Linked DNA regions of Homo sapiens: region 2 is linked to region 1. The links come from fine-mapping of genetic effects on gene expression. A gene starts in region 1. The other region holds a variant in brackets. All regions are shown on one strand. Distances are from middle to middle. Region 1 holds the start of LINC00658 (long intergenic non-protein coding RNA 658). Region 2 holds the start of LINC00654 (long intergenic non-protein coding RNA 654).

Region 1 (5,376 bases):
TGGGTGTTGTCCATCCAAGCTTGGACATGGGAATTTTGAGAAATAAGACTCTGGGCTCTGGAGGTTCTAGTTCTCTGGTTATCCCATCTGAAGTCCAGCTACCTCTGGAGAACAGCAAGTGGATGTGGATGAATTTGTTCTCAGTGATTCCTAGAGCTGGGTCTGAGTCTTGGGATGCAATGGAAGCCTCTTTCCTCTTCATTAGGCCCATTTACTGAAGAGCCTGAGTTTCAGAAGAGTTAGTGGACTTGCTCAGGTCTTGACAGATAGTTGGAATTGAAGGCTAAGTTTCTCCAGACCACGACAGAGGTTGCCATGGAGGTGCAGAGAAGATAATGAAAATCATGGTGGTAGATGGAGGTGGAAGGGGTAGTTGGTAAAACAGAGTAGGCACCCCAGAAATTATACTAAATCATTTTTTAAATTATTTTTAGTAATTAATGCATTCCTCCCCCTATATGGCCAGAGTTCTTAGAGTTGGGAGAAATCTTTGAAATTATTTGGATCATTCCTGCCTCCCAAGACTGGCAGAGAGGCACTGAGGCTCTCCTTCATCATCTTTAGGGATAAAGAGCTCATGCATGAATGGGGCTGGGGGTCCCTGGCAAATTCCGACCACTGGGGAATCTCTTATCAAAATTTACAAAGAGGAAGCAGGAAGCTCCTTGTTTCCAGTGTATATCACTCTTAACTAAAGCTCAGAGAAATTAAGATATTCTCTATGGCACTACTCAAAACCATGCACCATGATGAGTTGGCAGGATCAGAAGAAAGACCTTTTGCGGATGCCTACCTAGAAGGTTGCAGTGGATACTGGAATTTGGGTTTAGAAAGAAAAGGACAAGGGGATGCTACAAATAATGTCAAATTGAGGCTTTCAGTTTGTGTGGGTCAATATTAGCTTGTTGGGAAACAAGTGCCAGGTAGTCTGTGACATTCAAGGCCCTGATATCCTAAGAGTAAGGAAGAAATAGTGTTTAACAATATTCATCAGAGCAGTGGAGTATAAGAAAAGTCCACATATGTTCTGTGAGTCAGCATGCTGGGACTGAATTTCTAACCTCCTGGTTCTTAATTTCCTCATCTGTATAATGAGAGACTTGTTGAAGATCTTGCTAATATTCTACAGTGGGTTTTAATTTTTTTACATACTTGGTGAAAAAAAAAACAAAACCTCATTTTTTCCCCTCAATCTGATACTAGCTGGTCTAAGTCTCCATCCTTCAGGTTAGAGGAGCACTTTCCCTCAGTCATGTTTTCTACGAATCTCTAGGTGTCTTGCAGTCTAGAACATTCAAGTAAGGATTCCTGGTCCTCTGAACACTTTGGTCCCTTTTAAAGGTCCATGGCGCCGGCTACCTTGAAGAGGCAACTTGGATGTTCTCCAGACAAACTTGGACATGGGAATGTTCAGAAAAATGGGAGTTTGCGCTCTGGGGGTCCTGGTTCTCTGGTTAACCCATCTGAGGTCCAACTACCCTCTGGAGAACAGCAAGGAGACAGATTTGTTCTCTGTGATTCTTAGAGATGGGTCCCAGTCTTGGGAAGCAATGGAAGCCTCTTTCCTTTCCCATTAGGGCCATTTACACCTTTCCCAACTTTTGGTTTCTTTCTCCGGGCCATACACTGAATCCATTGTCATCATATGCTTAATTTTTCTATCACATAAGCCCTCAGTGAAGGATGTCTTCTGGGTGTCTAAAAACATTCTGTTTTTAACCATATGTCAGTTTATCTTTGGTTGTGTGCTGAACATGGTATTTGTAAAATACTTGTTGAAATAATTTGAGGGCAAGGATAATGTTACCTTCCTCTGAGGAGGATTTGATTTGTCTTTGCAAGGCACCTCAGGGAGCTTGCAATTCAAGATCAGGTTAATTCAAGCACAGGACTTTTTACCAAGCAACTTAGAAATATTTAAATAATTGAACAATTGATACAGCTGTACAGGTGCCTCCCAAATGAATATCAGCCCTAAATGCCCCCAATACTTAGGTTAAGTTCTTGTTAATATGGCTATATAACATATCACTCCCAAATTTAGGATTTGAAACAATAATTATTTCTCACGGTTTCAGTGGGTTAGCTCAGAAGCAGCTCAGCTGGGTGGTTCAAACTCAGGGTCTCTCATGATGTTGCAGTCAGATGTCAGTAGGAACTGGAGGCTCCAATTCCAAGGTGGCCCACTTACAAGGCTGGCAAAGTGGTGCTGGTGATTGGCAGGAACCCTTAATTCTTCTCCATGTGAATCTGTAGATGGAGCTGCTCGAGAGTCCTTGGAGAGCGGTGGCTGGCTTCCGCAGAGAGAGAGATCTAAGAGGTGGAAGATACAATGCCTTTTGTGACCTAGCCTCGGAATTCACACCCCATCACTTCCTCCACATTCTATTGGTCACCCAGAGCCAGCCCTGATTCAATGCGCAAGGGAACTAAGAAGGACATGAATACGAGGAGGCAGGAACCATCACAGGCTGTCTTGCAGACTGGTTACCACACACAGAAATTGGGACTTGAATCCAGGCCTCTCTGATGTCAAAGTCCTTGTACTTCACTGTGCTGCCCTCCCCAAGCAGCCTCTTGAATCTGTGGATCCCTCTAAGTGTAATGTCACCTTCAGCCTGCAACAGTACAGAATGGATAAAGTAGTGATATTAAACATGCTGTAAGAGAAGAAGAGAAGCCTAGGCTCCTTGAGCATGATTATAAAATGGGGACCAGTGAGGAGAGGATAGCCTCAAGAAGAAGAATTGAGAGGGGCTTGGTTAACTATCCCTAACTGGACATTCTGCTTTTTGCTGTTCCTGGCATCAGCTATCAGAAAGTCTCTGTGGGTGAGTTTCTGAGCACTCTTTTATGCCATTAACTACACTCTTGCGAAGCTTCTGTTTGAAGGGTTTGGATTTTCTTAGGCAGTGCCAGGTTTTCAGAATAGAAATTGACTGGTTTCTCCCCCAGAAAGTCTATAGCCTACCGTGTTTAACCCCAACCTCTAGTAATAGCTCAATCCACGCTGATCCCCCAGGGTTTGCAGAACAGAGTCTCGGTTGCAAACACTGCAATCAGCAGCTTGCTGTTTTTCTCTTTTTCTTCCACTTTATTTTATATTGATATTTAATGAATGTTTCTTTGGTGGTATTGCTATGTTCATTATTTAAACTCTGAAAATTGAAGCCATAGAAAATAATTGTTGATTCACCACAGGGAGCCATATAAATATTGTTCTAAATTCTAATGACCATGACCATTGGGATTATTTTTTGTGAAGCATAATTTCCATTATTTTGAAAGCCCTCAAGTCAGTATCTTAGAAGGGCAGCTGTTTTCTTGGCTATTTTCAATAGGTTTTTCTTCTTTCTTCATTTTTCCTTCCCTCCTTACCACATTAGACACCCTCCTTTTATTTCTTCCCTTGCCATTGTATTGTTTTTTGTTTGTTTGTTTTTGTTTGTTTTTGAGACAGATTCTCACTCTATCACCCAGGCTGGAGTGCAGTGGTGAGATCTCAGCTCACTGCAACCTCCGTCTCCCGAGTTCAAGCGATTCTTCTGCCTCAGCATCCCGAGTAGCTGGGACTACAGGCGCACGCCACCATGTCCGGCTAATTTTTGTATTTTTAGTAGAGACTGAGTTTCACCATACTCTCCAGGCTGGTCTCAAACTCCTGACCTCGTCATCTGCACGCTTTGGCCTCCCAAAGTGCTGGGATTACAGGTGTAAGCCACCACGCCCAGTCTGTATTGTTATTTTTATTGCTATTGTTAATATAAACGAGGCCTCAGGACTTAGAGCTTCACAACTAAATAATACCTGTGTACATCATTTTGTATTTTCAAGTTGTTTTTACAAATATCATCTTATCTGATGCACATTATAACTGAATGAGATAAATGGGACAAACGTCATCCCTATTTACAGATAAGGACAAAATCCCAAAGATTTGCAGAGCTACAGGGCTGGTTAGAGCAGGTCCCTCCTCCAAGAGCAGATCTCCCTCCCTTAGTATTATCTCACCCCTCCGGGCCTGGGAAACCTAAAGATACTTTGTGAACGCATGTCTGTATCTACAGAAAGCTCTGCTAGTTAAAGAAACTACCCTAGACCAAGCTGCGCTCTAAGGGGCTGGTGAGCTCTGTTATTTTTAAAATTACTTTAAATATTTTTTCTTTTTAATTAAAATAATGAGTCAAACATAGGGAGGATTACAGAAAATAATTTGGAACCAATCAGATTTATCTGAGGTGACCTTTTGCCACAGATGCTTGAAGTCCATCCATCTCTCTTATGAAATGAAATGTTACAGAAACAGCTCATTCTCTCCCTCCTCACTACTCCTTGCCTCCCTCCCAAGGCTACTTCCATCCTGAGTAGTGCTTTCTTCAGTTGCATGTTGATCTACTGTTATATACAAGAATGAGTTACAAGTCATATGCCATCAGCTTTGCATTTTGCAAGAATTTTCACAAATATTATGCTATCGCATGTACAGACTTTAGGCTCACTGCTGAACAATGCCCTGGGCTTCTTTCATTTTTCTGCATGTCTCACTCCTCTGGCTATGCCTGTTTGGGCTGGGAGAGAATACAGGGAATGTCCAAGATATTAGCAGTTCCTATGGCAGCAAGTGCTGGTTTCTGTGACTGTGGTTCCCTAAGAGAGGCAGAAAAGCAAGGGGACTAAGCTTCCACTGTGCACTTAATCGCAGGGCCATAGCCCAAGTAGGTTGTAAAGGCCGATGACATCCCAAGACAGGCTGGAACTTGAACTGACATTTTACAGAGGAAAACCAGGCCCAGAAAAGAGAATGGTTGCTTTAATGTCACACTTCCAGAAATTGGTAAAGCAGGAACCATCTCAGAGCTTATGACACCTTTGTACTAAACACATTGCCTTTAGGCAGTCTTATTCTTCATCCAGTAAACAGCAGACCATGGATTTGATTGTTTTCTTTCTTTTCTTTTCTTTTCTTTTCTTTTCTTTTTTTTTTTTTTTTGAGACGGGAGTCTTGCTTTGTCGCCCAGGCTGGTGTGCAGTGGCGCAAACTTGGATTTGATTGTTTTCTTGCCTCTGCTCCCCTGAGGAAAATGCCAGCAAACTATAAAATTTCATTCCCTGAGATCCTGGCAAGCTACATTGGACTTAGGTGTCTGCTGTTTCTGGGAGGCAGCAAGGATCTGAGTTTGGGGGAAGATCAGGTCACCGGGCTGAAGAGTAGCCCGAAGATCTTTTTTACCTGGATCGCCCTCTGGTGGCAGATTCGATAACAACCGCTCTAATTCATCATCTGAAATGCAAAGTGGTTGCAGCTCAAGTTTTCCTTGCTCCTCTTGGGACTTGCTCGTTCCTCATTAAAGCATCCCTATGCCCACTCTATACAAG
Region 2 (5,376 bases), 58 kb after region 1:
CACATGGGAATTTGCAAAAGGAGAGAGTGAAAGGCCCAGGGCATTTCTGTGGTCTGTACTAACCCTCAAAGATACTCTTGGTCTGTGTGATCCTCATTTTCAAATTAGAGGCTAAAGATGGACAAGGCCGGTAGCAGAGTGTGCAGGTCGCCTGGCCAGCCCTGCATTTACTCCTCTCTCCAGGCAGAGTGGCCAGTGCCACTTGCCCACGCAGCAGTCACGTGAGGTCCATCCTCTGGGAAGGTCCTCCCTGATGGCCCCTCTGCGATTCTGACCACAGGATGCCCGCAGCACAGCAGAGTCCCAGGTGGAGCAGAATCGGCCATGAGAATAAGCTTGGTTCCGAGGACTTTCTGCTGTTATGTCTGTAATTACTAAACTTTTTTCATATAATTGCATTTTTCAAACATATAAGGATGACAAAAAAATAATATAACAGGTAAACAGAAGTGCCATTTTGCTTCCACGGCTCCGGCCTCCTAAGGGGCAGGAAAGCAGGTGACCTTATTCCTGGTATTAAAATGGCATGGCTGGAGTTCAGGTGGGCTGATGGGAAGCTGTGCATCCTATAGCACCCTGGAATGGCTGAAATTAAGTATTTTATATGGCAAAATTGACTCATGGAGCAGAAATAGCCTGCTCATATGGACATGGAAGCAAGATGTCCTTCAGGCCCCTAAACCTCTTCTGAGCCTCTTCGCCTGCAGATAGCTGGGCAGGCGTGTCTGACCATCCCATGTGGCCAGGGTCCATCTTCAGCAGTTGTGGATTGAGGCCTTTGTCCTTGTCTGTGCTGATTTGAGAGGTACTGGAGAAAGGCTGTGGTGTCTTGGTCTTCGTCTCCAGTGTTAGCCACTGCAATGGCAGGGGGAGGAGGTGGTGGGCTGAGAGCATGGACAGTGCAAAGGCAGTCATGGCTGATTGCTAGAGAGAAAGATGAAGGAGACATTAACTCTTCTCCTGAAGCACAAATCAGAACAGATATTTTTCACGTGTTGAGCATGTATGTGCCCCACCTGGGTACTGGGCAGCATTTCTGATTGAACACTGCCGCAGTGCTTGATGCAGGTTTACGTGAGCCCCAGTTTCACGAGGGGGTCCCCTCTCCTCCCTCCCTTGGATGTCTCATGTCTCCATCTGCACTCTTAGTGGCCTGGTCTTTCTCTGAGACAATTCCAGGCTGGTTCCCCTGCTTTGCTATCCCCCACAACCTCTCCCACACCATTGCCCAGCTCCCAAGAGCTCACTGTGGCTGAGGAAAGGGGGTGCCTTGACACGGAGTTCCCTTCACATGAGGGTCCCCAGACATTCCTCCTGGAAGTGCTCCACCAGGACCCCTGCCACATGTGCCTCTTGGTGCAGGGAGGAGAGGAGAGCAGGTTGTGTCTGATGTGGGTGTGTCTGTGTGCAATGGCTGCTTGTATCCTTGTGTGTTGTGTACCTGCTCAGCAAACTGAGTCCTGTGGCCAAGAATGATCCTGGGCAAAACTGAGCACATTTAACCCAAGTTTGATTTCAACTCAACACTTTCCCACTGTGCCTCCTTCTCATCCCAAATGTGCCAAATACTTCTAATCTTAGTATTCATTCTTTGCTTTGTCTGTCAGGTCCTGTTCTCTACGAGTGAATATCCTAATGACCATAATAAAGCCAGTTCCCTTTTTGGGGACTGACATTTGTTGAGAACTCCCCCTATGAATGCTGTCTTGCTGCAAAACTTCACCTCTGGATAAAGTGGCTGTGCTCCTTCTGGATGTCTGCATCAGGGCTGCTGAGGCACAGCTGAGAATGCACCACACAGCTGACTACGCTGCTGAGCAAATCTCATTACTAAATGCACATCCCTTTCAAGGATGCCAGGCGTTAGGGCTGCATTGCAACTTTGATGGACACTGGGGATTAATGCCTGTGTGTCCTTGTTCCATTAAAAAGTTTGAAGTTTGCTGGGTGCGGTGGCTCACACCTGTAATCCCAGCACTTCGGGAGGCCAAGGCGGGCAGGTTACGAGGTCAGGAGATCGAGACCATCTTGACCAACACGGTAAAACCCTGTTTCTACTAAAATACAAAGAAGTAGCCAGGCGTGGTGGTGGGTGGCTGTAGTCCCAGCTACTCGGGAGGCTGAGGCAGAAGAATGGCTTGAACCTGGGAGGAGGAGGTTGCAGTTAGCCGAGATGGAGCCACTGCACTCCAGCCTGGCAACACAGCAAGACTCTGTCTCAAAAAAAAAAAAAAAAAAAAGAAAGAAAAAGTTTGAAATTTGATTTTATGAGTTACTGGTATAATGATAAATATATTAATATCATAGGCCAGGCGTGGTGGCTCACACCTGTAATCCCAGCACTTTGGGAGGCCGAGGCGGGTGGATCACGAGGTCAGGAGATCGAGACCACGGTGAAACCTCATCTCTACTAAAAATACAGAAAAAATTAGCCGGGCGCAGTGGCGGGCTCCTGTAGTCCCAGCTACCCGGGAGGCTGAGGCAGGAGAATGGCGTGAACCCGGGAGGAGGAGCTTGCAGTGAGCCGAGATCACGCCTCTGCACTCCAGCCTGGGCGACAGAGCAAGACTGCGTCTTAAAAAAAAAAAAAATCACATAGTTCAATTTTTTTTTCTTCTGACTGAAATTGACACTCTTTGGTGGGCCTGTAAGTTTCCTGGCCCTGGTCACTGTGCCCACCCTGCCCATGGCTAAGGGGTCCTAGCAGCAAGCATGTATGTGGCTGGCCCCTACACCCTCCCACTCTGCCAGAGATTTTTTCCAAAAGGAATCTCCCTGCACGGAGGGCGGAGCTCGAGATCTCCATGTCGCGGGGTGGCTCCGAGGTCACCACTGCCCAGCATGTCTCTGGCTGCTGACAGGACTCTGTGCTTTCTTAACTCCTTGATGGAGTTCCTGGAGTTGGAGGGAAGCGCTTCCCACCAGAAACCCACTTGTGTCGGTTTTTCTTCCATTCGAAACAAATGATCAAAGTGATAGCGTTTTCTATGTTACGTGTCTGTCTCTGGTCACTTAAAAACAAAACAGAGCAGGGTGTCCCCTGACAGCCCAGGAGAAGAACAGGAAGGCAGCCCTGGGGTTACCTGTCAAGGTTCAGATCATGACCTCCGCAACGGCCACGGCTGGGTGACATC[G/T]TCACTCCCCAGGGGACAGGCGATCCCCTCCTCACCCCACAGCTCAGACCCCAGGATCGGCCCCAATCCCTGTGTCCTGAGCTCCTCCTACTTCCCCTTTCCATCCCAGCCAGCTCCGAAGGAGGCCGGCCCTGTGAGACAGGGAGGGGTCCAGCCTGGGACCCGGCCTGAGCCGGGAGGGAGGGCTTGTCTTGCTCCGGCCCCTGTGATGAGTCCCCTCTTACCCGGCAGGTGGTGACTCCCCATCCGCGGAGGCTCCCCCGCTGACCCCAAGTCCCCACCGCTCTGTCCTTCTCCAAGGCCCGGTGCAGGAGCACCCTTTGTCCCTGGGTGGCCTGACCCTGCTGACCACGGGTCACCTCCCTGACCACGAATACTCTGCCAACTGCCTCCTGAGTGACCGAGACAGCTCAGTCTAGAGTCTCGACTACCCGGGGTGACCCAATAGTCCCGACTCCCCGAGACAGGGACCCGGAGACGTGGGCTTTGTCAGTTTAACAGATTCTGCCTCCGGGAACCAACTGCCGGGAGATTCTGATTGGCTCAGCCGCGTGCCCACGTGACCGACCAAAACCGGCCACCAGGGTCTCCCAACTGCCTGTCAAACGCACAGCCCTGTTGGGCCCCCGGAGAGGAAGAGCCGAGAAGGAGGCCAGGCCGGGGGTCAGGTGGCTTCCTCTATGGGCCCTTTAATCCACCTCACTTTTTTATCTTCTTTTTTTTCCCAGCAGCTTTATTAAGTTATAATTCACACACGATGTAATTCGCCCATTTAAAATGTACAATGGGCCCGGCGCGGTGGCTCACGCCTGTAATCCCAGCACTTTGGGAGGCCGAGGGGGCAGCGGGGATGGGGGTGGCGGGTCACCTGAGGTCATGAGTTCAAGACCAGCCTTGCCAACATGGCAAAACCCTGTCTCTACTAAAGATACAAAAAATATCCAGGCATAGTTGTGTGTGCTTGTAATCCCAGGTACTCGGGAGGCTGAGGCAGGAGAATCGCTTGAACCTGGGAGATAGAAGTTGCTGTGACCTGAAATCGCACCACTTCACTCCAGCCTGGGTGACAGAGTGAGACCCTGTCTCTAAAATAAAATGAAATAAAATAGAATATACACTGGTTCTTAGTATAGTCACAGAATTGTGCAATCATCGGCACCATCTAATTTGAGAACATTTTCTATATATATGTAGAGAAAGGGGTCTTGCTATGTTGTCCAGGCTGGTCTTGAACTCTTGGGGTGAAACCATCCTCCTTCTTCAGCCTGTGCAATACCTATGCTTGCACGGGTGCAAGCATCAGCATTACAGGCATGAGATGCCTCACCTGGCCCAGAACTTAGTTTTTTACTGAAAAATATTCCCTTGTATGCATATATGATATTTATCCAGTCATCAGCTGATGGACTTTTGAACTGTTTCCACTTCTGTTTATTATGAATAAAGCTGCTATGAGCATTTGTGTAGAAGTTTGTGTAGATTTATGTTTTCATTTCTGCTTATATAAGTAGGAGTATAATTTCTGGGTCAAAGTATAACTGTGTAGTTTTTGAGAGGAATTGCCAACCTGTTTCCCCTCTTCTTTTTTTTTTTTTTTCTTTTTTTTTTTTTTCAGAGATGTGGTCTCACTCTGTCACCCAGGCTGGAGTGCAATGGCACAAACACCACTCACTGCAGCATCAACCTCCTGGGCTCAAGTGACCCTCCTGTCTCAGCTCCTTAAGTAGCTGAGACTACAGGAACATGCCACCATGCCTGCATAATGTTTTTTTGTTTGTTTCTTTGTTTGTTTGTTTGTTTGTTTGTAGAGACAGGGTTTCATCATGTTGCCCAGGCTGCTCTCGAACTCCTGACCTCAGGCAATCCACCCATCTTGGCCTCCCAATTGCTGGGATTACAGGCATGAGACACAGCACCTGGCCGCCAATCTGTTTTCTAAAGTGGCTGCACCATTTCACATTCCCACCAGCAGTGATGAGGGTTTTTTCCTCCATCCTTGCTAACACTTGTTCTTGTCTGTAGATTTTATCATAGCCATCCTAAGGGGTAGAAGGTGGCATCTCATTGTGCGTTTGATTTGCCTTTCCCTAATGACTAATGGTGTTGAGCATCATATCATGTGATTATTGGCAATTTGTGTATTATCTTTGGAGAAATGTCCATGCACATTTTTCACTCATTTTTCACTTAGGTTATTTTCCTTTTGTTGAGTTGTAAGAGTTCCCTGTGTATTCTAATACAA

The links. PIP is the estimated chance that this variant, and not a neighbour inherited with it, causes the effect.
Region 2: its variant is the best candidate, but not a certain one, in a credible set for the expression of LINC00658 in caudate (GTEx, PIP 0.64).

Annotation. Positions count from the first base shown.
Region 1 is chr20:5,443,434-5,448,809 of GRCh38, forward strand. It overlaps LINC00658 (long intergenic non-protein coding RNA 658), which reads right to left and starts at 2,315. Exons shown (of 5, transcript NR_038240.1): 1 at 2,071-2,315.
Region 2 is chr20:5,500,940-5,506,315 of GRCh38, forward strand. It overlaps LINC00654 (long intergenic non-protein coding RNA 654), which reads right to left and starts at 3,657. Exons shown (of 2, transcript NR_015406.2): 1 at 3,359-3,657; 2 at 1-924. It overlaps LOC124904863 (a long non-coding RNA gene), which reads left to right. Exons shown (of 3, transcript XR_007067509.1): 3 at 1,608-1,663. RefSeq lists an enhancer at 3,403-3,512. The variant G/T (reference allele first, on the strand shown) is at 3,135.